Regions from separate parts of the Homo sapiens genome. Here all the other regions are linked to region 1. Evidence: fine-mapped expression QTL. A gene starts in region 1. Each other region holds a variant in brackets. All regions are shown on one strand. Distances are between the middles of the regions.

Evidence for each region.
Region 2: its variant is fine-mapped to the expression of COL9A1 in testis (GTEx, PIP 0.93).
Region 3: its variant is fine-mapped to the expression of COL9A1 in esophagus muscle (GTEx, PIP 0.91).

Annotation. Positions count from the first base shown.
Region 1 is chr6:70,298,329-70,309,007 of GRCh38, forward strand. It overlaps COL9A1 (collagen type IX alpha 1 chain), which reads right to left and starts at 4,756. Exons shown (of 38, transcript NM_001851.6): 1 at 4,583-4,756; 2 at 3,673-3,746; 3 at 1,981-2,058; 4 at 1,715-1,847. The coding sequence starts at 4,596.
Region 2 is chr6:70,342,483-70,353,161 of GRCh38, forward strand. LOC105377848 (a long non-coding RNA gene) reads right to left here. Exons shown (of 4, transcript XR_942670.2): 2 at 9,161-9,244; 3 at 8,407-8,451; 4 at 3,388-5,787. Among named protein-coding and RNA genes, the nearest start is that of COL9A1, 45 kb to the left of the region's middle. The variant G/A (reference allele first, on the strand shown) is at 5,636.
Region 3 is chr6:70,227,508-70,238,186 of GRCh38, forward strand. It overlaps COL9A1 (collagen type IX alpha 1 chain), which reads right to left. Exons shown (of 38, transcript NM_001851.6): 34 at 7,287-7,433; 35 at 7,032-7,086; 36 at 5,076-5,264. Among named protein-coding and RNA genes, the nearest start is that of COL9A1, 70 kb to the right of the region's middle. The variant T/G (reference allele first, on the strand shown) is at 5,450.

The DNA of each region.
Region 1 (10,679 bases):
AGGGAACTGAAGTAAAGATAGTCTAAGTACTTTCCCAAGAATAAACTTTACTGTTTACTTGGAATTCCACATGTCTGAGTCTCTAACTTTCCTCCTTCTCTTTTTATTCTCCTACTTTCTTTTCCTAATTTCTTCCTCCTTCTTTCCTTATCTTTTAACAAGCCTTGACAGTAAAACAAGATTTTTTAGTCCTTATGGGGGCAGGGAGTCAAGGGTAGCAAATGTGAGACATTAAATATAGCCTGGGTACATTATTTAGTGACAGCTCTAGACAACAACGAAGATGAGCAGGAGGTAAGGAAGCCACGTGGCATCAAATTAATCAATCTCTGAACTTAAGAGTTAATGACAGTACCTCAAACCTTAGAAGAGAAAATCAGGTCAGCACTGAGGACCTCATGTTTTGCTTAATTATTTAAGAAAGAAAAAACTGAATTTTTAAAGCTTATTTAGCAACACGACTGGCACTTCCATACATGAAAAGAAATTATGAGGAAAAAAAAGTGAATTCACTGTTATCATGGTTTTAATCTTTCCAGATGTGAATGGTTTTCCAGAGTCAGTATGGAGTAGTGGTTAGAAGTAAAACCTTTGCAACCATTCTGCCTGGGATTCAGTCCTTCCAGCACATTCCAACCCACTCACCTTATGCAAGTAAATTAAACTTTTGGGGATCCCTGATTTAAGAAAAAAAAGGTTAATAATGACCCTATATCACAGGGTTGTGATGAGAATGAAATTAATGTTAATTAGTAAATTTATAGAAAGAGCTCATATAATGTACTATTGTTGTATTATACAATAATATATAGTAGGTTCAAAATATGAATTTCTAGCTGTAATCTGGTACTATTATATCAGATTCTTCTAATTTGTTCAAAATTTTTATTTTTATATACATTGAGTTTCTATATTATCTTATTGTTCTAATTAATCATTATTTATCTTTATAACTTAATTTCTATTGAAGTCCTAATTGTCTCATTTATCTACTAAAGGAATTTTAATTCTAGTTTTTTTATAGTGTGCTAAAGCATATAATAATTATCATAATCATAAATAAGGTATTTAGGTGATATCAAAACTAAATTGCTGAGATTCATTCATAATGATGACAGGACTCAACACTTACACACTAAAGTACCTCAGTTTTAAATAAAGAGCAAAAGGCTTAGTTCCAGAGAAAGAAATCAGTGAAGTGGAGGATTTGATGTCGTTAGTATTACTATCATTGTTTCTATTATAATTATTTTAGTTTTGCTTTGGTTTGATGTCTGCCAGAAGCCAAGCAGTGGACGTGTGGCTCCATTTCAGCACCAGGACACTTGAACAGCACCATTGTGAGTCTTCTAACCACTCTGTGGCTCCTAGTTAAATTTATGCTTACCCTCTGGCACTTTTCACAGAGGGTCCTTTCAGTCAAAACCAGACAAATTATAGAAAAACAGAAAGCAAGGTAATAAGAACATGTCCTGAATCAATGTATAATAGTCTCAGTGATGCTTTTTCCTGGAATGGAAAGTAAATTACATACTGAAAACATGAAATGCAGTATTAAGGTACTGAAGATAGGCAGGTAAATAAATTTCTTCATCTTTAAATACAATTATAATCCAAGAAACATTGATCATAAGAAAACTCTAACATTGGATAGCTATCCATTTTTAATGCATTTGAGTCAGATAATTAGATTAAAATATTTTTGATAGATTACCTAGTTGGAATCCTGAAGTCTACATTATTTCCCAACTTGTAAGCCACCTGCAATGTAGCTGATCCCACTACTCTCTGGATAGCTCTTCTAGATGCTGCTTTATCTACCTGGAACTGAGAGATCAGATCAAACCCTATAGAATGGGAATACAAAATGAAAAGTCTAAAATGAGATTGGTTTTATTTCTTTCCACAACTTTCCCAAATAAAAAAAAAAATCAGGTTTATAGAAAGCATGCATTTTCAATAGGGTACATTGCTACTCACCTGGTAAGTCATCTTGGCCAATCCTGATCTTTGGACAGAGTTCATTTCCACCATTAGAATTGGAATTGACAGGGAATCCTGCAAAAGAGATAGCATGTCATTCTACTTCATCCACTCTAACTTAAAGTATAATAATAATAAAATAAAATAAAATAATAATAATAATAATAAAATTTAGAACCAGAAAATAGCAATTGACCACAAAAAAAAGATTTCAGGATGTATCAATAATAATAAATATTTAAAATTCAATATTATACCAGCTTGCTTAGAGGTAAAGTGTTTGGCTTTACCTCCATGCCTCTACGATTATAATCTGTCCACCTGCAACTCATCCTGGAAGGGGTGGATGCAAGGCACAAAGTTGCTCTAATAATCTGGCTGGGAAAATGTTCGTTTTGAAGAGGTTAGGCATTTGTTCCTTTTGAAACCAAAGCTGAATGGTGTCCTGAATGGCACAGGGTCAGAAATCTGTTTGGAAAATTCCTGGTGGTTTGGGCTAGAAAATGTTCCTTAAACACCACAAATTTTAGGATTCCAGTGAGATTCCAGAGCCAACCTTGGTCCAGTTCAGTGGGGCTTCTGGAGAGTAGAGTTCTTAGGAATCTTTGTCAGATATAGGGGCCTGGGGAAGTCTTGAGATTCACTAATCCTAAATAAAATATAGAGGATGGATTTGATTTCATAAATTCGTTCTAAGAGATCAAATAAAAGTCCCGACTAGATTAATCCTAACATCTTAGAACTGGGAAGAGTAAAAAGAAGAAGAAAATAATCATGAGAAGGATTAAATCCTCAATTTGATAAGAAATCATAGAATGGAATTGTGTTCTCCTTACACAAATGGAAGGTCAAAGGGAAGAGAGATTTTTCACCACCACAGAAGGCTTCTTGGAAATATCCAACCTCAGTGCCTTGCTAAGATTCATCTGACAACAGAGACTCTCTAGACTTCAAAAAAAGTATTATTCAGTTACAAAGCATAGGCCCGGCGCTGTGGCTCACGCCTGTAATCCCAGCACTTTGGGAGGCTGAGGCAGGTAGATCACCTGAGGTCAGGTGTTCAAGACCAGCCTGACCAACATGGTGAAAGCCCGTCTCTACTAAAAATATAAAAAATTAGCCAGGCATGCTGGCACATGCCTGTAGTCCCAGCTACTTCGGAGGCTGAGGCAGAAGAATCACTTGAACCTGGGAGGCGGAGGTTGCAGTGAGCCGAGATTGTGTCATTGCATTCCAGCCTAGGTGACAGAGTGAGACTTCATCTCAAAAAAATAAAAATATAAATATAAAAAAGCATGGGCCTAACCATAATGGTACATCAAACATGCTCTTTATACTCTCCTCACCCCAAATTGTTGAGGTCCATCCATCCATCAGTCTATTTATTCATTCATCCATGTATTCACCCAACATTTACCAATCACCATCTGTACTAGGCACTGCACTAGGCACTGCAGCTCACAGATTGGCCTTCCTACCAACTGTGATTACTGACAGGACTTACTTTCCATACCCAGCATTGACCATGGAAAACCAGAACCTAATGTATCCCTGTGCCCCAAAGCTGGATTGAAGAGTGAGGGTGTGAAGGACTATGAATGCCTCACTCAGTCTTCAGTCAGCCACAGCCCTGCCTGATCATTTCTGGGAATAAGTGATCTTTGAAAGTCTAGAAACTATGGCCCTTACTGGGGCGACGCTTGACAGCTGCAGATGCCCAGGGTTCCAGGAAACTGCACACAAAGAAGAAAACTGGAATTTTCCTGAAGAAGAGAGAAGAAAAATGACTGAAACAGGAGTCCCCGCAGATGGAAAACACTTCCATATTTTCAAACCTAGTAAACCTAATTAATGTAAGGTGATCAAATCACAGTATAGTTTTTTTTTCATTTCTTTTTTTTTTTTTTTTTTTTTTTGAGACGGAGTCTCGCTCTGTCACCCAGGCTGGAGTGCAATGGCGCGATCTCGGCTCTTTGCAACCTCCACCTCCTGGGTTCAAACGATTCTCCTGCCTCAGCCTCCTGAGTAACTGGGATTACAGGCACGTGCCACCACACCCAGTTACTTTTTCTATTTTTAGTGGAGACAGGGTTTCACCATGGTGGTCAGTCTGGTCTTGAACTCCTGACCTCGTGATTCGCCCGCCTCGGCCTCCCAAAGTGCTGGGATTACAAGCATAAGCCACCGCACCCAGCCTTCATTTTTACTTTGAAACCCTACTGAGAGATGTAAGGAACTCATGTTTCCAGACCCCACTGTCGTTGTTGTTTTATTGATCTCACCTTCTCGGTATCTACCTATCTCACTGTTTTGGTACCTATTTCTTTGTCTCTGGTTTCTTTCACCTTTGATTTCCTTCCTCTCTTTTTCTGTGGCCGTCACTTTCTCTCCCTTCCTCTGTCTGTCTTCGGTTTTTTGTGTCTGTCTTCGGTTTCTCACGCTTGCCCTCTTGTCTTACTCTCTCATCCGTCTCTCTTTCTGTCTCTCACCTTGAGGCTCACCTACTCTCATCTTACCACTGCTGCAAAAATACAGACCCTTGGTTCTGAGGACCCCCAGCTCCATCTCCCCACCACTCTTTCCAGGGTTATTGTCTTACCAGCAGGTCTTCATTTTCCCAGTTGATTTTCTTTGTTTGCCAACAGTCCCTATGAAGAAGGGGTTGGAAGGGAGTCACTGTCCCCTCACGACCCCTTCACTGTTACCCTAGGACTATGTGTTCTGGGCCCAGCCTTGGTCCCTCCTGCCCCCGGTGAGGGCTAAAAGCAAAGGGAGAGAACCAGAGGCATCTCGTGACACTTTAAACTGAAGCAAAGGAAAGGGGTGGGGAGAAGCAGCGCTCTGAGCCCAGGCCTAGGGGTGTGTCCTCAAAGCTAACAAGGTTATACTGAAGGAGGGATTTACAGGGGAAAGTTTGCTGAAAAGAAAAAAATAAAATCAGGATGTGGGGAAATTCACCAGAAAGATCCAGGCAAGGTGCTATAGGAACACAGTAGATGCTTTTAGATCTGCTATAGGAGTACAATGGCAGCTTTCAGAACTGCTATAGGAATACAGTGGAAGCTTTCAGAGGGCTGAGGTTCCAGTAAAAATGTGCCCACTGGGAGGCAGAGGTGTGGAAACTCGTGGGAGCCTTGGTGCCCGATCAACCTAAGTTTCAATCCCTGTTTATTCTGAAGCTTACTAGCTGTGTGTCCTTGAGAGAGTTACTTCACCTTTCTGTAACTAGATGCCCTAACTGTAAAACAGATTGAAAATGCTTACATTAAAACAATGGTTTTGAGAATTAAATGAGGTATCAAAGGCAGAGGGTCTAACACCCAACAATCATTATTTGTCATCGTCTTCATAGCTAACGCTTCATTATGCACCTCCGTCTGTTGAAAATGCTCAAAGCTTAATGCCATTTAATTCTCACAACAACATTATAAGGTAAGACTGAAGTTACCCTTATTCTCCAAATAAGAAAGTTGAGGAAGCAGAAAATGAAGTAACTTTTTCAAAGTGCCATGCCTATTACTAAATACACATTCCCTCTCTCTACCTCATGGATAGAAATCCTGATAAAATGTAACATCAAGCCCCCTACTTGTTGTTTATTCTTAAACTCTGAGACTACCAGAGTTGAGCAGAGGACACTGTATCTGGAAAGAAGCAACATATTATCCTCCGTTAACAAGGTGAGAGCAAATTACAAGGAGCACAAACCTAGAGAGAGGCATGTTATCAGCATCGCTACCACACATGCCATGCCGTCTCTCCAGAACCTGAGCACCTAAAGAGAATTCCCTATAGCCCCCACATCACCCCCGTTACCACCCACTCAGCATGGCCAACCTCTGGCCTTGTCTTGAGGGACACGGGTGGTTACTCCAAAAACCAAGACTCTAAAGGTCAGAAGATCCAATGATCTCAAAAATCACAGTACAAGCAAAGTAATTTTTAGGTGAACTTTTTTTTTTTAAGAGACAGGGTCTCAGGTCTCGCTCTGTCCCCCAAGCTGGAGTACAGTGGCATAATCATAGCTCACTACAGCCTTGAACTTCTGGGCTCAGGGGATTCTCCCACCTCAGCCTCCTGAGTAACTGGGATGATAGTCATGCACCACTGCACCTGGCTTCTTGAAATTTTTAAATTTCGTTTTCTAATTGATTTAATTTTTATTTAATTACAAAACAATAGCGTTGCTTCTTATTTTTCATTTGTTTATTTCTTTTCCAAAAAAGTCCTTTCAGTTTCTGCCTCCCCCAGCTCACTGATGAAATGTAAATCAGGCAAACTTAATATCCATGCTTTTGCCCTTTTATTTTCTACTCATAGCCCACCTGTTGGAGTCCTGTCTCTCTTTCCCAGAGGGACACCCATTTCCTCATGCTGTTTGGGGCTTTCTACAAGTCCCTGTCATTTGCCTTCTGTCTATCAAAATTCCCATTCCCTAGTGCAGCCATCCTGGCTCTGTGACAGAACTACAAATGACCAGATCTTAGCTTATTTGTTTAAGTCAGTCAGGGCTCATGAGAAAGAAGCGGTCTATTAACCTCAGAGGAGAAACTGCAGCTGGGGACCTTCCTGACATCCTGAAGTCACAGGAGGTAAGCCAGCCAGAGATTCACAGGGGAAAAGGCATTTTCCAAAGGGACTGTCCATTGAAGCTATTTATTTGCATGATTGATCCTCTCATATTACTTACTCTGGTAAGAAAGGAGAGAGGGATTTTTCATTATAATGAAGTGTTTGGGAAATCCTTTCATTGCTTTAGAGATCTCAATTCCGCATTTGCCCCTCTCCTTCCCACTGTAATGAATCCTCTTCAAGTAGAATTTGAAATCAAGTGAGGGTGCCTTTTAATTAAAAATGAAAGGATAGAGAGAAAAATAGGTTTGCTTATAGGTGGTGTGGCTTTTTTCTAGCTTGGCAGTTTTATTTAAGATGGTAGGAGCAAGCAAGAGCTATTTTAAGAAAGAAAGTAGGCTGGGCACAGTGGCTCACGCCTGTAATCCCAGCACTTTGGGAGGCCAAGGTGGGTAGATCACCTGAGGTCAGGAGTTCGAGACCAGCCTGGCCAACATGGTGAAACCCCATCTCTACTAAAATACAAAAATTAGCCAGGCCTGGTGGCACGCGCCTGTAGTCCCAGCTACTCGGGAGGCTGAGGCAGGAGAATCGTTTGAACCCAGGAGGCGGAAGTTGCAGTGAGCCGAGATCACACCACCGCACTCCAGCCTGGGTGACAGAGTGAGACTCCATCTCAAAAATAATAATACTAATAAAAAGAAAGAAAGTAAATCCAGGCCAGGCAGGGTGGCTCATGCCTGTAGTCCCAGCACTTTGGGAGGACAAAGGCAGGCGGATGACTTGCACTCAGGAATTGGAGACAAGCCTGGGCATCATGGTGAAACCCCATCTCTACAAAAAATACAAAAATTAGCCGGGCACAGTGATGCACACCTCCAGTCCCAGCTACTCAGGAGGCTGAGGCAGGAGGATCTCTTGGGCCTAAGGAGCTTGAGGCTGTAGTGAGCAGTGATTGCACTACTGCACTCCAGCCTAGGCAAGACAGTGAGGCCCTATGTCAAAAAAAAAAGAAAAGAAAAAACAAAAAACAAAAAAGAAAGTCGATCCAGAGAGAACAAAGATATATACAATATTATTTAAGGAAATTTTTTTTCCTCCCTCCACTCCCATTTTCTATTAATCTTGTTTCCTAACGCGACATTAGAATCTCACAGACAGCAGTGCAAATGCCACACTATTCTGGTCTGGGTCAGTTGCACCCTAAGGTCATAGACGCATAAGCTTTTTCACCCTTAGCATTATTTCCTCACCTTACCTAACAGTTTGGTTCTGAAAAACCATGTAGAAATGAAATGTGGTCAATCATATCAGATTATAAATGAACTAAGACAGCTTAATATTTAAAATGATCCATTTTATAAATAGAAGTGTTTTGTATAGAACAGTTATACTTTTCTTTGTACCTCCTCTCATCCCTCCCCCACATACTTTTTCACAGAATGCACACACACTAATCTCCTTCTTCTTATAAATCAAGAATATTATTTACTTAAAGCTTAAATCGGGGAACATCATCACAAATAATCATCTTTCTTGATCATCTGCTTTCTTCCCTTTGTTTATTCAATCATGTATTGAGTAACTATATACAGTAGTATATGTATCAAGTATGTGCTGGGAGGTGAGGAAGCAAAAAGTGTGAATAAACACAGCCTTGCCCTGAGGAAGCTGACAATCCAGCATGGAGGACCAATATGAAAGCGACCACAATTCAGAGAATAAGAAGGCTGTAGTGTCACTGAGAACAAGTATTAGCATAATCCAAGGGCATCGGGAAATTTTTAATACAAGAGATGAAATCGTGAAGGATACTAAGGCTACTAAGAGAATAAGTGGGTGCAGTATGTTTTAGACAGAGAAAACAGAAGATACTATAACAAAAAGGTAAAAGAGGACATTTGGGAAGCAAAGAATCCTTTCATTTGGTAAATATCTATTGATGCCTCTTCTACCATGCTCCCTGAGTGACCTTAACACCAGAGAGACAACCAGAGAAAGATCAGGTCCCTGCCCCTATGCAGCTTACACACTGGTGGGAAGAGAGGTACTAAACACATTTACAAGAATAGACAAAATAATTTCAGGTGGAAACATTATGAAAAATATAAAAGAAGACAATGTGTCATAGAGTCTGTAGAAGGTTTAGAAGCTGGTCTAGGTTGAGGGGTTAGGGAAGGCTGCTTTGAAGTCGTTAATTTTGACTCAGACCAGATGAGAATAAAGAGATAAGATTGGTGGGTAGATTGGAAAAGGGGTGGGGGACAGGAAAACTACCTGGTTTTGAGCTTGAGCAACTGAGTAGATGGTGATGTCACTTTCTGAAATCACAAGTAGGAGGACCACGGGGGAGGAGTTGGGTAAAGGATCTTGAATGACATCAAAAGAAAGCATAGACATTATTCTGGCTGTTATAGGAACTGAGAGAAGAGTTTGAGGCCAATAATGACTTTTTTGGATGTGTCTTTAGAAAGACAGTTCTGGTGTTGCTTGGAGGATGGATTGAATGGGCTTTATTACTACGTATACAGATACACAACCAGAACAAAAGTTTCAGAAAGCAATAGTTACTCATATAAATGTATTAAATTACTTTATAATCAGTGAAAGGTCAGTAAAATGTAGAATTATAAGTGCCTAGTGACTTAATAGGAGGAAATATGGAAGGTTAAGGAAGGAAGTAGGAACCTGGAATAAGAAAGCTAAGTTTCATTTATAGCTCCGATGAGTGACTTTCTTTGTTTTCACCATTGGGAATCTTAAATGAGGAAAGTGTCGTATCCCTTCCAGTTATCTTTATGTTAATAAACTAAGTGAAGATTGGACAGAACTAACAAAGGAATTAGTCTCCAATGGTGGACTTCCAGAGTTTTGAGATTAAACTTTGAGAGGTGAGAAGCCTTCCTGATGCCCCTGTAATCTTAAATTGGCAGGTGTCTCTAAGTGAGGCCATCCCTCTTTGCCTGCCTATCATTTTAATCTTTATACTGTAACTGGTTCCTTTCAACTCTGGCCTTTTATTGTAGCACTTTTATCAAGTCTGCAGCTTCCCAGCTACTTGGGAGGCTGAGGTGGGAAGAACACTTGAACCTAGGAGTTCAAGACCACTCTGGGCAACATAGTGAGTCCCTGTTTTTAGAAAAATAAATAACCTTTAGCTTTTTGCTATAGAAAATATCCAAATAGAGTCTGGACAATGCTGGATGTAAAGAAAACTGTGAAGCTACCTCTAAGCATATTGTTTGTAAATACTGTGTACCATTTAGAGGATAACATGGGGGATTCACATGAAGTTATGTGAAAATATTTTATAAGGAATAATACCTAAGTGCCTCTCTTACAGTTCTCCAGTAGAATGTATTTTCAATTTTTGCCACAAGGGGGAGAAGTTATTTTTATAGTAATATGTACATTTTTTTATTTTAAAAATAGAATTCACACAACTTTACAGCATCTATGAACATTTTGCTATCCTAATTATGTGTGTGTGTGCATGTGTGTAAACAAGATTCTGAAAGTCTTGCATGAGAAAAATTTCAAAGGAAATTAATAACAAAACCAAAACAGTTTTGAAGAATGTGCACAGTGGACACAGGAATTGAACAAAGTTTACCATGATTAAAATTATGTTTTCTTAGTTAAAAAATAAATAAATAAATGTAATATATTCTATTTTCTGTTTTATTATATTTCATTTTTGAGTGATGATAACCAAATCAGTGAGTACATTTCAGGACCAACTGATGGGTTACAACTCATGGCTTAAAAAACATTCGATTAGAAAAGAGTAGACACTAGAAGTGCCAAAGGATCTCTTTCCCCTTGTTTCCTGGTATGGGCACAATAGTTGGGATGCCCCATGAAACTCATAGAATAGTAGGGCAAGTTCCTTAGTTTTAACATGACTATATATATTTTTTAAAACATTCTTTTGAAGTAGCTGTAAATTGAGAGTTTTAATTAAACATACCACAACCCCCATATTTAATGAGTTCATAGGTTAAATTAAAGAAGAAGTATTTTTAAAACTAGCTTCCTAATGGTATTTAATTTTAAGCTTTATTCCATCTATCTTTACTTTAAAATAAAAGACCCAAGATGCCTAATGGCACCTACCAGTTGTG
Region 2 (10,679 bases), 44 kb after region 1:
GCTGCTATAAAGAACTCCCTGTGACTGGGTAATTTATTAAGGAAAGAGGTTTAATTAACTCACAATTCTGCATGGCTGGGGAGGTCTCAGGAAACTTAAAATCATGGCAGAAGGAGAAGCAAACACTTCCTTCTTCCCATGGCAGCAGGAGAGAGAAGTGCAGAGTGAAGTGGGGAAAAACCCCTTATAAAGTGATCAGATCTCATGAGAACTTACTCACTATCATGAGAACAGCATGAGGGAACAACCTCCATGATCTAATCACCTCCCATGAGGGTCCCTCCCCCAACACATAGGGGTTACAATTCGGATTACAATTCAAGATGAGATTTTGGGTGGGGACACAGCCAAACCATATCACTATCCATCAGCATGGAATGTTTATTCATTCGTTTGTGTCATTTCTTATTTCTTCAAGCAGTGTTTGTAATTCTCCTCTTGAAGATCTTTCACCTCCCTGGTTAGCTGTATTACTAGGTATTTTATTCTTTTTGTGGCAATTGTAAATGGGATTGCTTTCCTGATTTGGCTCTTGGCTTGGATGTTGTTGGTGTATGAGAATGCTACTGACTTTTATACATTGATTTTATATCCTGAAACTTTGCTGAAGTTGTTTCTAAGATCAAGGAGCTTTTGGGTAGAGACTAGGGGCTTTTCAAGATATAAAATCATATTGTCTGTAAACAGAGATAGCTTGACTTCCTCTCTTCTTATTTGGATACCTTTTATTTATTTCTCCTGACTAAATTGCTCTGGCCAGAACTTCCAGTACTATGTTGAATAAGAGGACTGAGAGAGAACATCCTTGTCTTGTTCCAGTTTTCAAAAGGAATGCTTCCAGCTTTTGCCCATTCAATATGATGTTGGTTGGGGGTTTGCTGTTGATGGCTCTTAGCATTTTGAAGTATGTTCCTTCAACACCTAGTTTATTGAGAGTTTTTAACATAAAGCGATGTTGGATTTTATCAAAAGCCTTTTCTGCATCTATTGAGATAATCATGGTTTTTGGTTTTTGTTCTGTTTATGCTGATTAGTCACATTTATTGATTTGCATATGTTAATCACCCTTGCATCCCAGGGATAAAGCCTACTTGATAATGGTGGTTAGGTTTTTGATGTACTGTTGGATTCAGTTTTCTAGTGTTTTATTGAGAATTTTTGCATCTATGTTCATCAAGAATATTGGCGTGAAGTTTTCTCTTTTTGTTGTGTCTCTGCCAGGTTTTGGTATCAGGATGATGCTGATCTCATAGAATGAGTTTTTTGGAATAGTTTCAGTAGGAATAGTACTAGCTCTTCTTTACACATCTGGTAAAATTTGGCTGCATCTGGTCCTGGACATTTTTTGGTTGGTAGGCTTTTTATTACTGCTTCCATTTTGAAACTCATTACTGGTCTGTTCAGGGATTCAATTTCTTCCTGGTTCAGTCTTCAGAGGTTGTCTATGTCCAGGAATTTGTCGATTCTTCTGGATTTTCTAGTTTGTGTGCATAGAGGTGTTTATAGTGGTCTCTGAGGGTTTTTGTATTTCTGCAGGATAAGTGATAACGTCCCCTTTGTCATTTCTAATTGTTTTTATTTGGATCTTCGCTCTTTTTTTCATTATTATTCTGGATACTAGTCTATTTTTCTTATTAGTTTTTTCAAAGAACGAACTCCTGGATTCATTGTTTTTTTGTATGGTTTTTCACATTTCCTTCAATTCAGCTCTGATTTTGGTTATTTCTTGTCTTTTGCTAGCTTTGGGGTTGGTTTGCTCTTATTTCTGTAGTTCCTGTAGTTGTAATGTTACGTTGTTAATTTTAGATCTTTCTAACTTTTTGATGTGAGTGTTTAGTGCTATAAACTTCCCTCATAACACTGCCTTAGCTGTGTCTGAGAGATTCTGGTACGTTGTATCTCTGTTCTCATTTATTTAAAAAATTTATTGATGTCTGACCTAATTTTACTGTTTATCCAAAAGTCATTCAGGAGCAGATTGTTCAATTTCCATGTAATTGTATACTTTTGAGTGATTTTCTTAGTATTTATTTCTATTTTTATTGCACTATGGTCTGAGTGTGTGGTTGGTATGATTTTGGGTTTTTATTTTAATTTGCTGAGGATAGTTTTATTTCCAATCGCGTAGTCTATTTTAGAGTATGTGTCATGTTCAGGTGAGAATGTATAGTCTATTGTTTTTGGGTGGAGAGTTCTGTGGATGTCTATCAGGTCATTTGATCAAGTGCCAACTTCACATCCTGAATATCTTTGTTAATTTTCTGCCTTTATGACCTGTCTAATACTGTGATAGGGGAACTGGAGTCTACCACTATTATAGTCTGTGAATGTAAGTCTCTCCATAGGTCTCTAACAACTTGCTTTATGAGTCTGTATGCTCCTGTATTGGGTGCATATATATTTAGGATAGTTAGGTCTTCTTGCAGAATTGAACCCTTTACCATTATGTAATGCCCTTCTTTTCTTTCTTTATCTTTGTTGGTTTAAAGTCTGTTTTGTCTGAAATTAGGATAGCAACTCCTGCTTTTTTCTGTTTTCCATTTGCTTAGTATATTTTTCTCCATCCTTTTATTTTCAGCATATAGGTGTCTGCATGTGAAATGGGTCTCCTGGAGACCATATATCATTGGGCCTTGCTTCTTTATCCAGCTTGCCACTCTGTGCCCTTTAATTGAGGCATTTAGCCCATTTACATTCAAGGTCACTATTGATATATGTGGATTTGATCCTGTCATTGTGCTGTTAGCTGGTTACTACACAGGCTTGTTTGTGTGGTTGCTTTATAATGTCACTGGTCTGTGTACTTAAGTGTATTTTTGTAGTGGCTGGTAATGGTCTTTTCTTTCCATATTTAGTACTCCTTTTAGGACCTCTCATAAAGTAGGCCTGGTGGTAACCAATTCCCTCAGCATTTGCTTGTCTGAGAAGAATCTTACTTCTCCTTCACTTATGAAGCTTAGTTTGGTTGGATATCAAATTCTTCATTGAAAATTATTTTATTTAAGAATGCTGAATATAGGCCCCCAATCTCTTCTGGCGTGTAGGGTTTCTGCTGAAAGGTCTGCTGTTAGTTTAACAAGATTCTTTTGGTAGGTGACCTGCCCCTTCTCTCTAGCTGCCTTTAACATTTTTTCTATCATTTCAACCTTGGAGAATCTGATGATTATGTGTCTTGGGGATGGTCTTCTCATGTAGTAGCTCACAGGAGTTTTCTGAATTCCCTGAATTTGAATGTTGGCCTCTCTAACAAGGTTGGGATAGCCTAGCTAGACGATATCCTGAAATATGTTTTCCAAGTTGTTTGCTTTCTCCCCATCTCTTTCAGGGATGCCAATGAGTCACAGGTTTGGTCTCTTTACATAATCTCATATTACTCAAAGGTTTTGTTCATTCTTTTTTATTCTTTTTTCTTGTTTTTGTCTGACTGAGTTATTTCAGAGAGCTGGTCTTCAAGCACTGAGATGCTTTTCTCAGCTTGGTCTAGTCTTCTGTTAATAATTGTGATTGCATTATGAAATTCTTGTCATGTGTTTTTCAGCTCTATCTGATCAATTTGGTTCTTTTTTATAATGGCCATTTCACCTATCAGTTCCTGTATCATTTTATTATAATCCTTACATTTCTTGGATTGGGTTTTTACTTTTTCCTGAATCTCAATGATCTTTCTTCCTATTCATATTCTGAATTCTATTTCCATCATTTCCATCAGCAAGCCTAGTTAAGAATGCTTGCTGGAGAACTAGTGCATTCATTTGGAGGAAAGAAGACACTCTGGCTTTTTGAGTTGCCAGAGTTCTTACACTGGTTCTTTCTCAACTGTGTGCACTGGTGTTCCTTTAACTGCAATGTATATTGAGTACAGCCAATTGACTTCTTTTCTGGATGTTTTCAGAGGCCCAAGTCTTTGTGCAGGGTCTTTATTTGTAGCTGAATTCTTGTCACTGGTTTCACAAGAGGGTATATTAGCTAAGTGTTATTGGTGTTGAAGTTTTGGACTGTCATCCAATAGGTGGTGCTTAAGTGTAATGGCTGGTAGGTAGGCTCTTGCTTAGCCACATGATTTCTCTGTATTTCCTCAGGATTGCAGCTGGGCTCCCTCTCAGTGCTGTGAATGGGTGGTCTCCTCTCCCACTTGAGTGCTGGCTGCATATCTCGGCTTGGCACTCCTGGGCTGCACATTACAATTCTGGGGTGAGTTCAAACTTTCTGTACCCTCTCAAGCTTGGAGGCAGCAGGTGAAGGGACCTTAGCAGTGGCTGTGGCAGAGTGTCTTTCACTTGTCTTTTGACAAGAGGCTCACACCTCTTTCTGATGTGGAGCCACTATCAATCGGTGTGATCAGCCCAGGATGGGGCCACCACACTTTGGACCCAAGGGCAAGGGGAGGCCCTGGTAGTGATGAGCAGGGAGAGCAGGTGGGTCCTGGAGGGATACAGACTGGCCTCTTCTCCTTAGGGCAACTTCAGCTTACCAAAGGTGTGGTTGAAGCACTCAGGGTCTCTGCTCCTTCCTTAGTCTGAGGGAAGCAAGAGAAGTACCACAGCAGCGGCAGTGGCAAAGGGCCTTTCAGTTATCTCTGGGAATTCTACCTCAGAGAAGCAGAACCACTGCCAATGGGAGTATTCAGCCAGGGGGTGGGTTGGCTGCACTGCTGGCATGAGTTGGGCACTCCACTTGGTGAAGAGGGGGTGGAAGGCTCACAGGGAGGAGAGACTGGGCTTTTCTTCCGATGGTGACTGTGGTGTGCTGAAAGTGCAGGTGAAGCCCTCAGGCTCTTTGTTTCTTCCCCAGATGGAGGGCAGCAGAGGCAGAACCATTGCTATGGCAGAGGGGTGTTGGTTCCCTCTGGGAGCCCCTCCTCTGGGAAACTCAGAGCCACTCCCAGTGGGCATCCTTAGCTGTGGTTGGGGCGACTGATCTGCAGTCCTGACCCAGGGGCCCTACCTGGTGAAGAGTTGAGGGTGGGGGTTCACAGAGAAGAGAGACAGGACTCTGTATGGGGGCTACACAGTGCAGGAGGTGCTAGCACAGGAACTAAGCCCTTTGTTCCTTCCTTAGCCTGAGGGTGGTTAGGGTGGTACCACTACAGGTGCAATGGTGGAGGGGTTGTGGGTTGACTCCAGGATTTCCTCCTTAGACAAATGCAGAGCTGCTGCTGACTGAAGTGCCCAGGCAGGGCAGAGTAGTTATGCGGGAGTCCCAGGTCAGGAGGCCCTGCCCAGTGAGGAGAAGCAGGGACAGGGACCAAGTGAAGAACAGTCCAGATGAGAGGTGAAGCCAGCTGGACTTCCTGGGTCAAGTGGGGATTTGAAGAACTTTTCTGTCTTACAAGAGGATTGTAAAATGCACCAATCTGCATTCTGTAGTTAGGATTGTAAAATACACCAATCAGCGCTCTGTAGCTAGCTAGAGGTTTGTAAAATAGACCAATCAGCACTCTGTAAAATGGACCAATCAGCAGGACAAGGGCGGGGACAAATAAGGGAATACAAGCTGGCCACCCCAGCCAGCAGCGGCACCCACTCAGGTCCCCTTCCATGCTGTGGAAGCTTTGTCCTTTCACTCTTCACAATAAATCTTGCTGCTGCTCACTCTTTGGGTCCATGCCATCTTTAAGAGCTATAACACTCACTGC[G/A]AAGGTCCACGGCTCCATTCTTGAAGTCAGCGAGACCACGAATGAACCCATGGGAAGGAACCAACTCCAGACACACAGACACTTTTCTGTGAAGCAGTTGTGCTGCACTGGGGATCCATGCCAGTTCCTAATCACCGTGCACCCTCCAGCACCTGAGGGCAAAAGCAGCAAGGGCTGTGAGACAGCAAAAACGGCAGCCATCTTCTCCTTCTGGGAGCTCTGTCCCAGGGGAGTGCAAAGCTGGTACCAGCCCTAGAGCCCTGGTAGGGGGTGGCTGGAGTCCCAGGTCAGGAGGCCCCGACCAGTGACGAGAAGCGGTATTGGGGACCCATGTGGAAAACAGTCCGGCCACTTTTCCATGTGGTGGCTGCACTGTGCTAGAGTCCGTGCTAGTCCCTAATCACCAAGCACTTTCCAGAGCCTGAAGGCAAGAGCAGCAAGGGCTGTGAGACAGCCAAGATGGCAGCCTGCCTTGCCCCCTTGGAGCTTCCTCCCAGGAAGTGCAGAAGATTATATTTCAAATGACTACACAATAGTGATAATGCAAGGTGGGGGAACTGCTTCATTTCAACAGTGTTATTCTCCTTAGAAGAAAAGCCTGTAAATATATGTATCAGAAAAAGTTTCTAATTTTTAGAGTAGGTTTTTAATACTCTTTTATATCTCTTGTCTCCTTGAAAATATTTTAAACACTCAGTAGTCCCAAGTGGAAAGTTATTAGGAGTCACGTAGTTCTTGCAAAGGAAGTCACAGATTGAAAATAAGGAGAATCCCGCCAGGTGCAGTGGCTCACGCGTGTAATCCCAGCACTTTGAGAGGCCTAGGCGGATGGATCACTTGATGTCAGGAGTTTGAGACCAGCCTGAACAAGATGGTGAAACCCCGTCTCTACTAAAAATACAAAAAATTAGCAGGGTGTGGTGGTGGGTGCCTGTAATCCCAGCTACTGGGGAGGCTGAGGCCAGAGAATGGCTTGAACCCAAGAGGCGGAGGTTGCAGTGAGCCAAGATCACGTGACTGCACTCCAGCCTGGGCGACAAAGTGAGACTCCATTTCAATTAAAAAAAAAAAATAGTAAATACATAAATAATAAACTAAAGACAGGCCAGGCGCAGTGGCTCACGCCTGTAATCCCAGCACTTTGGGAGACCAAGGCAGAAAGATCATGAGGTCAGGAGTTCGAGACCAGCCTGGCCAATATAGTGAAACCCTGTCTCTACTAAAAATACAAAAATTAGCTGGGCATGGTGGCACGTGCCTCTAGTCTCAGATACTCGGCAGGCTGAGGCAGAAGAATTACTTGAACCCAGGAGGCAGAGGTTGCAGTGAGCCGAGATCTCACCGCTGCACTCCAGCCTGGGCAACAGAGTGAGACTGTCTCAATAATAATAATAATAATAATAATCATCATCATCATCATCCTGGCGCGGTGGCTCATACCTGTAATCCCAACACTTTGGGAGGCCGAGGCGGGTGGATCACGAGGTCAGGAGTTCAAGACCAGCCTGGCCAAGATGGTGAAATCCCGTCTCTACTAAAAATACAAAAATTAGCCAGGCGTGGTGGCGCATGCCTGTAGTTCCAGCTACTCAGGAGGCTGAGGCAGGAGAATCACTTGAACCCAGGAGGCAGAGGTTGCGATGAGCCAAGATCGCACCATTGCACTCCAGCCTGGGCAACAAGAGCGAAACTCCTTCTTAAAAGAATAATAATAATAAATAAACTAAGGAGAATCCCCCAAACTAAGGAAAGGGACCAGAAATGTTTCTTTCTTGAAATTTATGGTAAACATAATAAAAATAATGAGATGAGCCATCAGTAAAATAAGTTCACCCCAAATGATAATTAGTTCAAGTATTGTCAAAAAATTCAAGTGTTTCCCAATTTTTTTCCTGGAGTTCACATTATTTCACTAAAATTTCACCAGAAAAACATTAGTATAGAATATTGAGAGCAGTACTGTTCAATACAACTTTCTGTGATGATAGAAGTGCACTGTAATCTGTACTGTTCAATATGGTACCTACTAGCTACATATGGGTATTGAGCACTTGAATGTAGCTAGCAACTAAAGAGCTAAATTTCTTTAAAATGTTAATTAATTTAAATTTAAATTATAGCATGTGGCTAGTAGCTACCATTTCGAACAATGCTATTTAATAGCTGAATACTCACAGAGTTGGGCTCAAACTGCTGAGGTTCAAACTCTGGTTTCACATTTCACTACTTTGTTATTCTTCTCCTGTTGTTGGGTTGATGTCAAGATTCAGTGTGTTAAATTATATGTTAAATAAATCTTAGCAATTGTTATTATTATATACCAGTTACACAATTTACCAGCCACATGCTCAAGTTACCTAACCTCACAAAACCAATTTCACCCACTAATAATACTATTGTATGGGATTTTTATGAGAATTAAATGAACTAATGTGTAAAATTGCTTAGTATATGCCCATCACATGGAAGCACTCAATACCTGTTAAATGCTATTATTAAATTATTATCAAAACAATGTTGAAACAAATTTTTGTAACTTGCAGGAAATACTGGGAAAATATACTGAAGTTATAATGATTTATAGGTGAGCAAATAATTTTGAGTCAAGTCAAATTTGTTCAACAGTAAAATTTTAAAAATTGCAAACCTTGAGTGATTCCATCAAGATTTATAGAGCACGTGGGATTCATCTTAATTAACACAGTCTGCCAACTTTTCTTTTCCTCAGCTGAAGCCTTAACAAAAATAAATCTATATGAATATGTATTTACCTTGTCTTTCTTATTATGGTTTTACTCTCTTCTTATTTTCGGTACCTGGTAGCACAAGAAAGTTAGTTAGAACAAATATATCACTGCCGGGCGCGGTGGCTCACACCTGTAATCCCAGCACTTTCGGAGGCCGAGGCGGGCAGATCACGAGGTCAGGAGATCGAGATCACCCTGGCTAACATGGTGAGACCCCGTCTCTAGTAAAAAATACAAAAAATTAGCTGGGCATGGAGGCACGTGCCTGTAATCCCAGCTACTCGGGAGGCTGAGGCAGGAAAATCGCTTGAACCCAGGAGGCAGAGGTTGCAGTGAGCCGAGATGGTGCCACTGCACTCCAGCCTGGCGACAGAGCAAGACTCCATCTCAAAAAAAAAAAAAAAAAAAAAAAAGAACAAATATATCACTGCAGGAAATCCTGTTTCCAATTATTTCAAGATATGCTGAGCCCATCAATGGTATACCCAAGCTCTAAAAACAACATATTTATAGCCACAATTTTACACATTTCAAATGATTTCTTAATGTGAAATTCAAATAAACTAGTAACTCCTACATACATATTAACTCCTTTTCTATTTATATCTTAAATGTGGTTCCAAATGAAAAACATGTAGAATCTAAGAGTTTGGGGAATTTGTTAACATGTTACAAAAATGTTTCTGCAAATTTACAGAAATTTATGAAGTCTGGAAAGTCTGAATTAGACTGCTGTTGGTGGTGACTTAAAACGATTTTATTTTATAAATGGACTTACTGTGCTCTTTTCATCATTTTTCTGGCATCTTAACAGCAGACAAGGAAAGTTCTTGTTTTTCCAGCAGCGTCTGCTTGGTAAAGTCTAAGTAGGTCAGAGGAAGAAGCAAAACGTTTTTATTTCAGCGAGAAATTAAAAACTCAGAACCTACTTTATATTTAAAGTTGCTTTCACTAGTGTAGTTGCCTAAAAGCAAGCAAGTAGCAGGTCCTTGCTCCCAGATGCCTGCTCGCAGATCATGAAAAGAAAACAAACCTTCAGGGTTTGAAGTGTAAATTTTCTGGAATATTTTGTACTAAATTGCCAATGTGATATCAAAGACATGGCGAAGTGTAGTTACTCTGCCATGGCTGCCCCATCAGCAGGCTCCCTTTAATGAGCAGTTAGTTCTAATTAATAGCTTACCTCTGGCAGAGAATGTAATTTCACTTTGGGTCATTTTCAAGCACAGACTAGAGTAAGAGTAAGGCAGTCAAAGAAAGAAGGAGAGAAATGGTATGAGGGTTGGAATTATATTTAGAGACAGCAGGAAGATGATCACTATCTGGTTTTCCCAAATCTTCACAAATTGGATTACAGTGTCTGGAGCTGTCTTTCAGAAGGGCACAGATTACATTGTGCAGAATTATCTGCAAGGGATAATTCTTCTGTTGATCTGAACTTTCAGCTAACGCCAGTGTCTGATGGTAAAGATTTTGATAGTGACATTTAAACACTTAGTATGCTAACATGTATAACCCAGCTGGTAACTGAAGTTTCCCTATTCCTTGAGTTGTAGCTAAAATTGCCCTGATCTGTGCAAGTCCAAAGCCCATCCTAGGACTCAGATGATTTCCACATCTACAAGTGTGTCTTTAATTCACTAGGCATCAATTTTAACAAAAAATCCAAGCCTTTTATCAACTTTCAATTCCCCCCCAAATAAAAGTCCACTCCCAGAGAACACTCATGATTAATAGAACCGACTGAGGTTTCAGTGGTGGGGTACCTATATAAGGAAAGGTCACCTCTCACCTCATTCCACAAACAACTTTAAAAAATTATCATTACCTTCTTGTGCTTTCAAGTCATCTGCAGCAACTGCCACCAGGCAAGGTGGGCCTGTAGGCTCGAGGTGACTAGGGGACACTGACAAAAGAGACCCTGCCACAGGGTGAGAAGCAAATGACAAGTGGCCCCAGGTGAGACTTATGACTTCCCAATAGCACACTAACCAGTGCTCAAGAGTCTTAAATCTCTGAAACCTCTGCCTTCAACATGGAATCTGGGCCCAAACTGTTGGTGGCAGATTACAGTGCACTTCTATTGCCACAGAAAGTTTTATTGAACAGTACTGCTGTAAAGATTCTACACTAATGTTTTCCTGATGAAATTTAATGCAATAATGTGAACTCCAGGAAGAAATTTGCAGCATATGATAGGAAATGTAGGTATGCCACCCCTTACGAATGATAGGAAAACTAAACAGTATGTGTTTTGGTAAGCCAAAAGACACACTCCCCACTTCCCTGATTTGTTC
Region 3 (10,679 bases), 71 kb before region 1:
AGCAAGTCTGTGGAATATGCACTATTATGAATTGCTGATAAGAGTATAAATTTGTACAATCCCATTGGAGGCTAATTTGACAATAGCTATCAAAATTTTTACCCAGCAGTTCTACTTCTAGGAATTTATCATAGAGATAAAGATGGAGTGTATGCTGCTTTTTAATACAAAAATGAAATATGTACAATGTTGTTCACTGCAGCCTTGCCATAATAGCAGAAGGTTGGAAACAATCTATGTCCATTAAAAGGTTAAAGACATTACAGAATTTCCACAGAATAGAACACTATGCAGCTGTGAAGAATAGCCAGGAAGCTCTTTGGAATGGTCTCCATGGCATACTGCTCAGTGAAAAAGGCAAGTTCCAGAACACTTGCTAAAGGACAATATGATTCATTTTTAAAAGGATGTAGAAAAAATACATATTCATGTATCCTTATATAGAATTGCTTGTAAGGATATGTAAGAAAAGAATAGTATTGATTACCTAGTGGGAAGGAGAAAGGAAATTAGGCAGATGGGAGACAGGGATAGGAGAGAAACTTCACTAAATATCTTTTTTATACATTGTTAATTTTTGGAACTGTATAAATTTAGTATTATGAAATATAAATTAATCAATCTTAAAAACATAAAGTGTGTTGTTACAGTGTCTACATTTCACTACTGACTCATTGTTTATAGGGAACATACTTTGGATTGCAACCAACCATGTGGATTTGCAAGACATTTACAAGACAGTTGATTGAAATTGGGGATTTAGCAGCCACAGAACAAAGTTGCATTAATTATCCCAGCCCCTGAAGATACCAAACCCAGCAACTTGACCTCATTAACAAAAGGCATTAATTCCTTAGTTAACTGGTCCTAAATGATGTCTGCTGCTCTTTGTTGAAGGCATTATCCCATTATTCCGGTAGTACAGTAGTATATCATTATTCTACTATGCTGTTAGAAAATGCAATGGCACCTTGCAATAAATTCTATACATACCATTTTTTTTCCAAACATTTGTTTCAGCTTAGCCTCATTCAATATTAAGTCATATTTGTTATAATTTTAAAAACAAAGTCATGTACACAACAAAAACAGAAAAAATATCTGTATAACCATCTGCACTCAGATAGTCAAAGATCTCTAATTCTGAAGTGAATATTTAGTCACCATACTTTGATTTTAGTTGTGAATGTCTTCATGTGAATGTTTTTATGATAAACTACATTTCATCACATTTCAAAACAATTTAAATTTATATAAATACTATGACGGATTGAACTCAGGTTGAACTCATATTTACATAAGCTAGTTTTTTTAACATTCATCATCAATATGGCCTTACTATATTAGGAAGATACGACAATTAACATCTTATAAACTAATGGCATAAGCATTCTTGTTAACTTGGTAATTTAAGTGTCATATCACTATAATTCTGGAGGCTGGCAATGAGAACAGACTGTCTAAATGTGCCACATTTCTGAAGATATGAGATGAAGATTATAAATTAAAGTGTGGCTTTTACACTGATAGTAAAAGCTAAACTTGTTTGTACATTCTAGCATGAAGCCACACCAACTTTTAATGTTGCTTCGAGGACTAAGACCAGTGTCTTTGTTGTGATACTGTCTTTTGGTTATCAGTCAGAGAAAAACAAGTTTTAAGATGAGCTCCAAAACAGAGCCTATTCTGCAAACTGCTACTCCACAGCAAACCATGTATACAGGTTGGTTCTATCGACAAGGTTAATCTATTACTTCAAACCCTGATCATGTCTTATTTTGAGATGTACAAAAACCAGCTTAGGGAACTAAAGGTCCAGCTTTGTTAGCCTCCTCAGTCAAAAAATATGCATAAAGAGCTTGTAAAATAAGCTTTAGGTAAGGTATAAAGAAAAATACACAGCTTCAGCAGAAAAACAGCTCATTATGAACGAGTGGAAATTCTCATTGCTCTATAGTTGCTATTTATTTCATTTATTCATGAGCTATAATTGATGCTCTATCTCCATGTAAACAGATTATCACTGAGAAAGGTGTTAGTCATAATTATGACATGTGTGTTTTCTCAAACCTTCATTTACATATTGCAGTGTCTGTTTGATTCACACTAAAATATCTAAAAATATACAGCCTTACTCAAAGGGACTTAAAATTAATCCAAACTGTGAATATTTAAAACTAATATTTATGACACAAAAGACCAATGTAATACCAAGCAAAGTGAATATAAGGCCAGTTAGATATCTCTCAGGTTTTAAGCCTGGGCCCTAACATTTTGTATAATATTGTGTAAAGCATGTCAGTGAAAAACAGAAAAATTATAGATATAACCTAAGCTTTGACTATGATTTGAGGCATATTTCTACTAGTTCCTATTGAAAATGTTCTACTGTGTTCTTCAGAGTATTTTCTAGGAGAAAAACAGTGACTAAGACATAGGCTGAACTGTTCAAGCATTCATAATAAAACTTGTTTGTTATTTATGCAGCAGTTTCTCTGGAAAAAGGCTCTCAAAGTGACCATATGGTAGAGCAAGATTCATACCATCCCTTCTTTACCAGGGATGGGGAAAAAAGCCAGCAAGCAATACTGAAATATATCTCTCCTCTAATTGACTGAAAATTTAAGTTTCAAATTGGTGGAATGTTTATGCTCAGGGAAATTTCAGCTGTAACCCCTTGGATATTACAAAGCTATATGTTTTCTAATAAATACTCCTGTTAATGTATGTGGTGGGACAAGAAGAATCAAATCCAGCTACCTAAAATCATACATTTCCAAAAGTATGACAGTGTTAATTGATTTTAAAAATTTAATTACCGCTCCCTACCTCCACCCCAAATTCTCAGAAGTTAAACTAAGAGAAGATACAGCTTTAAAGGAATCTGATAACGAGAAAGGGATGGAGGAGGGTAGGGAGAAAAAAAATCCTTTGGAAAAGGGAAAAGAATTGTATCACTTCATGTTATAGATTATGTCATGAATACTGAAGAAAAATTAAGAGGAAATACCTCACATGATCAAGCTATACTTGACAAACGAACTTAGTGCTAGAGCCATTTCCCAGGTTCCAAATATAGAAATTTACTTTTGTTTCTTTCAAACTGAGGTTCATCTGCTAGAGCCAACCCAACCCAGCCTAGCCACAATTCACTGTTGCTAAAGCTTCCCCAAACTATTCACCATTGTTTCCAGTGGTTCTCAACCCTGGCTGCACATTAAAATCACCTGGAGAATATTTTAAAATCCCAATGCCCAAGCCAATAAAATCAGAATCTCTGAGAATGGGATCCAGATATCAGTGGTTTTAAGCTCCTCAGGCAATTCCAGTGTGCAGGCAAGGCTGACAAAGGCAGCTTTAGACTGTCCTAGCTTAGCTTTCATTTTTTAAAGAAGAGTTCTGTTACTAGCTCAAACAAAGTTAAGCTCTGCCCCAAGGAGACTTCCTGTTAACCAAAGAAAATAGGGCTGTGATGTCTATAGGCCCTATAAGTCATTCCCTTTCAGTAGGAAAATGGGCGATTGCTCCACACCAGGTGCAGCAGAACCACCAGGAGGGCCTGTTAAACTAGACAGCTAGACCTCGACCCCAGAGTTTCTGATTCAGTGGACTCAGTGTGGACCAGCGAATTTGCATTCCTAACAAGGTCCCTGGTGACTCCGCTGCTCCGGGGACTGCTCTCTCAGAACCACTCCCTAAAGTGAACTCAGAAAAGGCCAGGTCGTCATGATCCACCCGCTTTTGCACAACAGATCCAATGAAGTCAACAATCTACCTAAGGCTGTAGAGTTTCTTAGAAATTATTTACAGAGTGAATTGAGACTAACCATAGAGAGAGCACCTAAGGCATGAGCTCCTGAACTAGTAAAGCTGGACAAAGATGAATAGGTATGTGACTCTTTCAAAGAAAATGTTCAGTTCTCTTTAAGAAAAACTCTACCCTCAGTCTGTACTCTATTTGATTTTGTCTAGCCTCCCAAAGCTTTGAATTCATGCCAGCCTTATAAGAGGTCTCAGTTAGACCCCATTTTTTTAACATGAAGCTCTGAACACGCCAAAAAAAAATGTAATTAAATAAATTGTTCCAGCTGAAGGTCTAGTTAGCCAACTGCATCAGCAGTTCATTTATAGATCCAAAAAGGCAGCTTGCTTGCCATCTGACCATTCATACCACAGTATTTATCCCTAATTGGAGCACCGCAGTACTTAAAAAAAAAAAAAACAACCCTCTCTTGTTTCTGATGCCACGTCTTTCTGAAGTTCTCCAGAAAGCTGTCAGTCACTCATCATGACATAGAAACTACTCACTTTATTTAGTCCTCTCTGTAAATTATCCAGGGCACATACACCCCAAGCTGATATACTTACTCCCCTCAACTAGCAAACTCCAAATGAGACAGCCAGTTCTTCCACCAGTCCTGCTGAGTACCTAACACACTCATAGCCCCATTTTTCTGCAAAATCCTGGATGCAAGGGCTTAACTTGCTTTAAATAAAAGTGGAAGAAACAAGCTATCTTACATACTAAAGAAGGAATTAGATTGTACTTCAGAGCTGAAAAAAAAATCCATCAAAACTAAATATCCAATGTCATGTTTTAAAAGAGGGAGGCAGCTCTAATGCATATTTTTCTTACATCCTGTTAACAAATTTTATTAGTTTAAATAACAAATACAAATATCCTAAGGATGGTTGCCATGTTAGAGGAACTCAACAATGACTTTAGGGTCTCAAAAAATAAATAAATAAATAAAAAATAGCTGAATGATCGTTTACCAGATCCCATTATCTTTGTTTTGAACCATGATTGAGGTAGAGTATAATAGAAAAAGATCAGTCCTAAAAGACACGGGACTTTAATTCTAGTATTTGGTCTACTGTTGTGGTAGAGCAGGGTCAAGGGAATATTATATAACAGTTTTTGAATCTTCACCGTCACTATTGAAAAGAGAATAATACATCTTATCTCACTGGATATTCAGAAATTGGTAAAACATAAATTCCTCGAGCTTGATACAGATTATACATCTGAAAAAGGTTGTGTTCTTTGGTTCCACATGGGCAAGATGACTTACCTTTAGGTCCCCTCAAACCAAGAGCACCAGGGGGCCCCTTAATGCCCGGAAGGCCACGAATTCCCATCTGGCCTGGGAAACCATTCTCTCCAGGAGGGCCGGGGGGACCAGGAGGGCCAGGCCTTCCAGGAAGCCCAGTGGCACCTGAGTCTGGACGCTTAAGACTGGCAGCCATCTCAGCAAAATGTTCTAAAAGAGAATAAACAAAACAACCCAGAAGTGTCAGAAACATAAAAGTTATTCTAATGAAAAGAGAGGTATTCCAAATGCCTTTTTTTCTAAATGTGTCACCAGATCTTCAAAATTGGTAGTAAGAAATGAATAAAGTTGGATAATTTCTCTGTGGGCTTTCTGCCAGAAAGCTTCGCTGGTGC[T/G]GTTTGATGCAGCTCTCCCTGGATATATTTGGTCCTGTTGTTCTGAGACAGAGTCAGGGCACGGGGAGGGAGGTAGCAGGGGGTGGGATTCACAAAAATCTTAAACTACAGGCTTTGGGGTGAACGATGTTCTGGAAGGATGTCACCTGAATCCCTGCTGGGTATCTGAAAACCCAGGATGGGAAGAAAAATGAGTTTCTTAACATATGTGGAAGCAGATGTCCAGACAGTTTTTAAAAGCCAAGAACATTGTCCAGAATTAATATTCAGACACCATTTGAGACCTCGCCTCACATTCTTAGTTTGAAGATATTATATAAACTGAAATATCCCCAGGAGTCACAGCTTCTTATAAACCCTCCTTCTCAGAAGTTTTTTCCACGCTTGAAATAGACAACAAACATTAAAAATAACTTGTTTCTTGGGAATGGTCAGAGTTAGTCTTAAAAATTAATAACTGTGTGGGCTTTTTCAGGAACCATTAAATAGATTCAGAATCACCCACTAAAGGCATGGCCTACAACAAAATCTCCCCATGAAAACATTCTAAGGGAAATATTCTCATGTAATATTTTTTAAACTTAGAGGGTAAAGGAGAATATGAAATGGAAACAAATTTCTACCCAACATTTTTAAATTGTTTAAATGTGAGTATTTTAAATTTGCTTATATAAGTAAGAGTTTGCATGGAATAATAATTTTTTAGATATGTTTAAAACTAAAATAGACTTTCAGGACAAAATGTCTGCAATGAAGAGGCCTATATTGCTTTTCAAATATAGAAGTGAATGTTTCATTCCTATTTGGTTCTGGAAAACTTCTCAAGTCTCCTAGACAAACTAGACTGTCTAGTGAACATACAAAAGAGTATCTCTTCATGACAAAGTTAGCTACACCAGAATACTGTAACTAGCTATGGGCTTCAGTGTTACAGAACTCCTCAGCTATAGGGTGCTTTTGCACATCTTCATTTTCTGTGTGTTTTTATAACTAGACCAATTCTGAAACAAATAACAATTGCCATAGCTACAGGTAAATTTTGATAAGGGTTAACAAGTATGAAAATGTGTCATAATTTTGGTAAATGCTGGTTATTGATTGTTTTTACATATGTGTACATGAATGGCGATAATGTCCTTATGCTTCCTATGGGCATGGAGTCTGTCATTTACTTCTCACAAAATGTAGAGAAAGCCTAGGTCAGTGCTAGGTACACACTAAGTGGTAGGGTCTTAAGGAGGGGAGAGACAACTAAGAATTTGTGTTCCAAAGGAAAAAAGTGTGTGTGTGTGTGTGTGTGTGCACTTTGTTATAAATTAGCCCCCATGGCAAAAAAACAAAACAAAACAAAAAAAAGGCAGGATAACCAGAAAAGTAATATTTTACATTGAGGCTACGGGCTGTATACTATTGTGGATGCCAATAGTTGGAAAAACAGAATTGGCATTAATATTACCCTAAATGTCCTATCTTTAAGGCACACAAAAAGTCACTCTTGTTTACCCTTGTGTATCTACAAGAATAAAATCTTAAGAAACAAGAGTTGATGGTGGAAAAAGTCAAACCATTGTGATTTATTTACCTTGTATGACTCTCATGCAAACCTGCTTAATGTGCTGATCTGTCGGTGCTCTACCCTGGGACAGAAAAGAAAAAAAGGCAGTTTATGCATGAAACCATAAAGAGAACATTGTTAAGTTGTAAACTGACAGACTCTGCAAGGAGCCAGGTGGCTGGATTTACAAGAGAACTTGTTGAGAAGCTGATGCCTAGAACAGCCCTGCTGCTGTGGGATGGAGTCTCCAAAGGGAAACCACAGAAGCTGCCCACCACTCACCGGAGGGCCCTGGACACCAGGCAGGCCGGTGGCACCCTGTTCTCCCTGCACACCCCGGGGTCCAGGTGGTCCTCTTGGTCCTTCCACTCCAGGAAGCCCCCGACTTCCCTCAGGCCCTCTCAAGCCAGGTTCCCCAGGATTACCTGCCTGGAACACAATTGCACACTATCAAACCAGGGCTAAGCATAAAGAATGTGCCTGCTTCATACTCATATAAACACTTATATGAAATTTGCGGTTTCCTGCACTCTGCATCCTAACAGGTGTTCTTTCAGAGGTTACAAAACCTTCACTGCAAGGTGAAGACACATAATGCTACACAACTTACCCATCTTTTAGAAATCTAGTTCAAGTTAACTTTCAATATATCTTTCTTTTGGCTGGGTGTGGTGGCTTACACCTATAATCCCAGCGCTTGTAGGAGGCCCATGTGGGTGGATCATGAGGTCAAGAGTTTGAGACCAGGCTGGCCAATATGGTGAAACCCTGTCTCTACTAAAAATACAAAAATTAGCCAGGCATGGTGGTGCATGCCTGTTGTCCCACCTACTTGGGAAGCTGAGGCAGGAGAATCGCTTGAACCCAGGAGGTGGAGGTTGCAGTAAGCGGAGATCGTGCCACTGTACTCCAGCCTGGGCAACATAGTAAGACTCCGTCTCAAAAATTATAATAATAATAATAATAATCTTTCTTTCGGGGATAGTTATTCTTGCAAAACGTTTATTGGAATACTACATTTTTTAAAAACTACATTCTTCATACTTTAAGCCACTCTCTAAGAGGAACTTAGTTTTCAATAAGCTTGTTAACATTTTCTGGCTACATAAAAGCCCCTGCATTCCTACAAAATATGTTACTTTGCATATCACAAATGCAGCAAGCATAAAATAAAGATATTTCCAAGAACATAAGTTATTTAGCCCTTACAACTTTTTTTTTTAGAGAATGTGAAGATGCCAGGTATATCCAGGAATTACTAAACTAAATCAATGCACTTAAAATACCACATTTAAAATGCTGCATTTAAAATACTTGACCAGGCCAGGTGCGGTGGCTCACGCCTGTAATCCCAGCACTTTGGGAGGCCCAGGTGGGCGGATCACGAGGTCAGGAGATCGAGACCATCCTGGCTAACACGGTGAAACCCCTTCTCTACTAAAAATACCAAAAATTAGCCGGCGTAGTGGTGGATGCCTGTAGTCCCAGCTACTCAGGAGGCTGAGGCAGGAGAAAGCCATGAACCCAGGAGGCAGAGTTTGCAGCCAGCCGAGATCGCACCACTGCACTCCAGCCTGGGTGACAGAGCGAGACTCCATCTCAAAAAAAAAAAAAAAAAAAAAAAAAAAAACTTGACCAAAGAAAGTTACAACTTACTTAAGTATGAAGGAAGTTAAAAAATCTAAATATTGAAGAAGTTAAAAGTAAACCATGTGTTTCCTTAGCATAAAAGCAAATACAAGTTAGATTTTTTTTTAGCTGAAAGCAGACCACTAAAAGCATTTAAAAGAATCATCTAAGATAAATGTTTTAAAAAGAGACCAAATTAATTCACTTTTTGTTAAACTAAAAATTTGTTAAATTCCTCTGGTAAAATTTGTGGCAGAATAGCTCCAATGTACTGCTGCTGTTCAGAATAAGAATGAGAAGATAAAAGAACACGAGGCAGCAAGGGAATGCTAGTGTTCAAGATATGAATGTTTATAAAGCAATTTAATCCTGCTTCTTTTTCATATGCATCATTTATCTAGAAAAAGCTGGCTCTTTCAAACAAATACTTTAAACTGAAGAAGGCGATGAAGCAATGCTTTTACTAGATACATCCAAATAAAGCTCAGCAAATGTGCTTTTCCAATTTCGCTTTATGCAAAAGAAATTGATATTCATCTAAGTCAACTTGCCAAAATTGCTTCTATGAAGAAATTATGGTTTAAAGACTTCCTGAAAGACTGTCAGCAGGACAAGGAAAAGGTATCCTACATAGAAGGCTGCAACATTGTCAGGTGCCTAGGGTGCAAAACTGTAACAACTTCTTTTTTTTTTTTTTTGAGATGGAGTTTTGCTCTTGTTGCCCAGGCTGGAGTGCAATGGCGTGATCTCGGCTCACCACAACCTCCACCTCCCAGGTTCAAGCGATTCTCCTGCCTCAGCCTCCAGAGTAGCTAGGATTACAGGCGTGCGCCATGACACCTGGCTAACTTTTTGTATTTTTAGTAAAGATGAGGTTTCTCCATGTTGGTCAGGCTGGTCTCAAACTCCTGACCTTGGATGATCTGCCCACCTCGGCCTCCCAAAGTGCTGGGATTACAGGCATGAGCCACCTTGCCCTGCCAACAACTTCTAAAAGAACCCAGAAGAGAAGACAAAATGAACTCAGAAATATACTGAAGAACTGACAGAAAACAAAGGAGACCACGACAGAGTGTATAATCCTGCTGATAATGACTGAAATACTGCTACAGTAAGAGCTGGGAACTTCCTAATGAAGAGATTAAGGGCCAATATGGCCAGGACCCTGGGTCTCTGGGAAAAAATTCCTCAACTGAGGAGTGGTATACTGAAACAGAAATCAGGTTACAGACATCGCCTACTTCACAACTTTGTCTATGCTGAAATCAATGAAGAAAGTGTAAGTCTTTGTGTTAGTAACAATTTCCCCTGATTGTGGGACAGTAGACTTCAATTTCACTCATATTACCTGGGCAGTGTCAGGTAAGACACTTGTGGGGAAGGAGATGAATCAAGAGCTAATTCCTAATACTATATGCAAATTTGAATGCAATTAACTTATTCTTGTCACTGCATGGTTCATTAACTTTTCTTTTGTTACAGCTTGAATTCTTTCTATTGAACATTACTATTTCTAGATAGTGAAGTAGGATTTCTATTACCAAACTCAATCAAGGTTTACTCTAAATTTTTCTCAATCCTCAACCATTTCTGTTAAAAATTCTTAGGCATAAAAATGTTACTTGAAACTTGAGACATAGTGTTTAGAGGCAGGTAAGTTAATACGATGTAATAATATTCATCTCTGCGGTTTGCAAAGAGCCCAAGGCTAGGCATTGTAACCAAGTCTGACTGGGTCCTCCTGGAGAAAGTGAAGCTGAGGATAGATCGAAATGCTTAAGTAGGAAGTAGCTATTCCAAGGAAAGAGGAAGAGGAGACCAGAACAAGGTGTTAAACAGCATGTAAAAGAAACTGCAAATGGATGAAGTTCTAGGTATGTAGGAGATGAGGTTCGTGGAGCAAAGAACACTTCATCAAAGGCTTTGTTTACCTCGCTAAGAATCTGATTTTATTCTTAAAGAGTTTTAAACAGAGGAGGGATACACAGTGGGTTTTATTTTTTTAAAAAATCTAGATGACATTGGCTGCCATGAGGATAATATGCT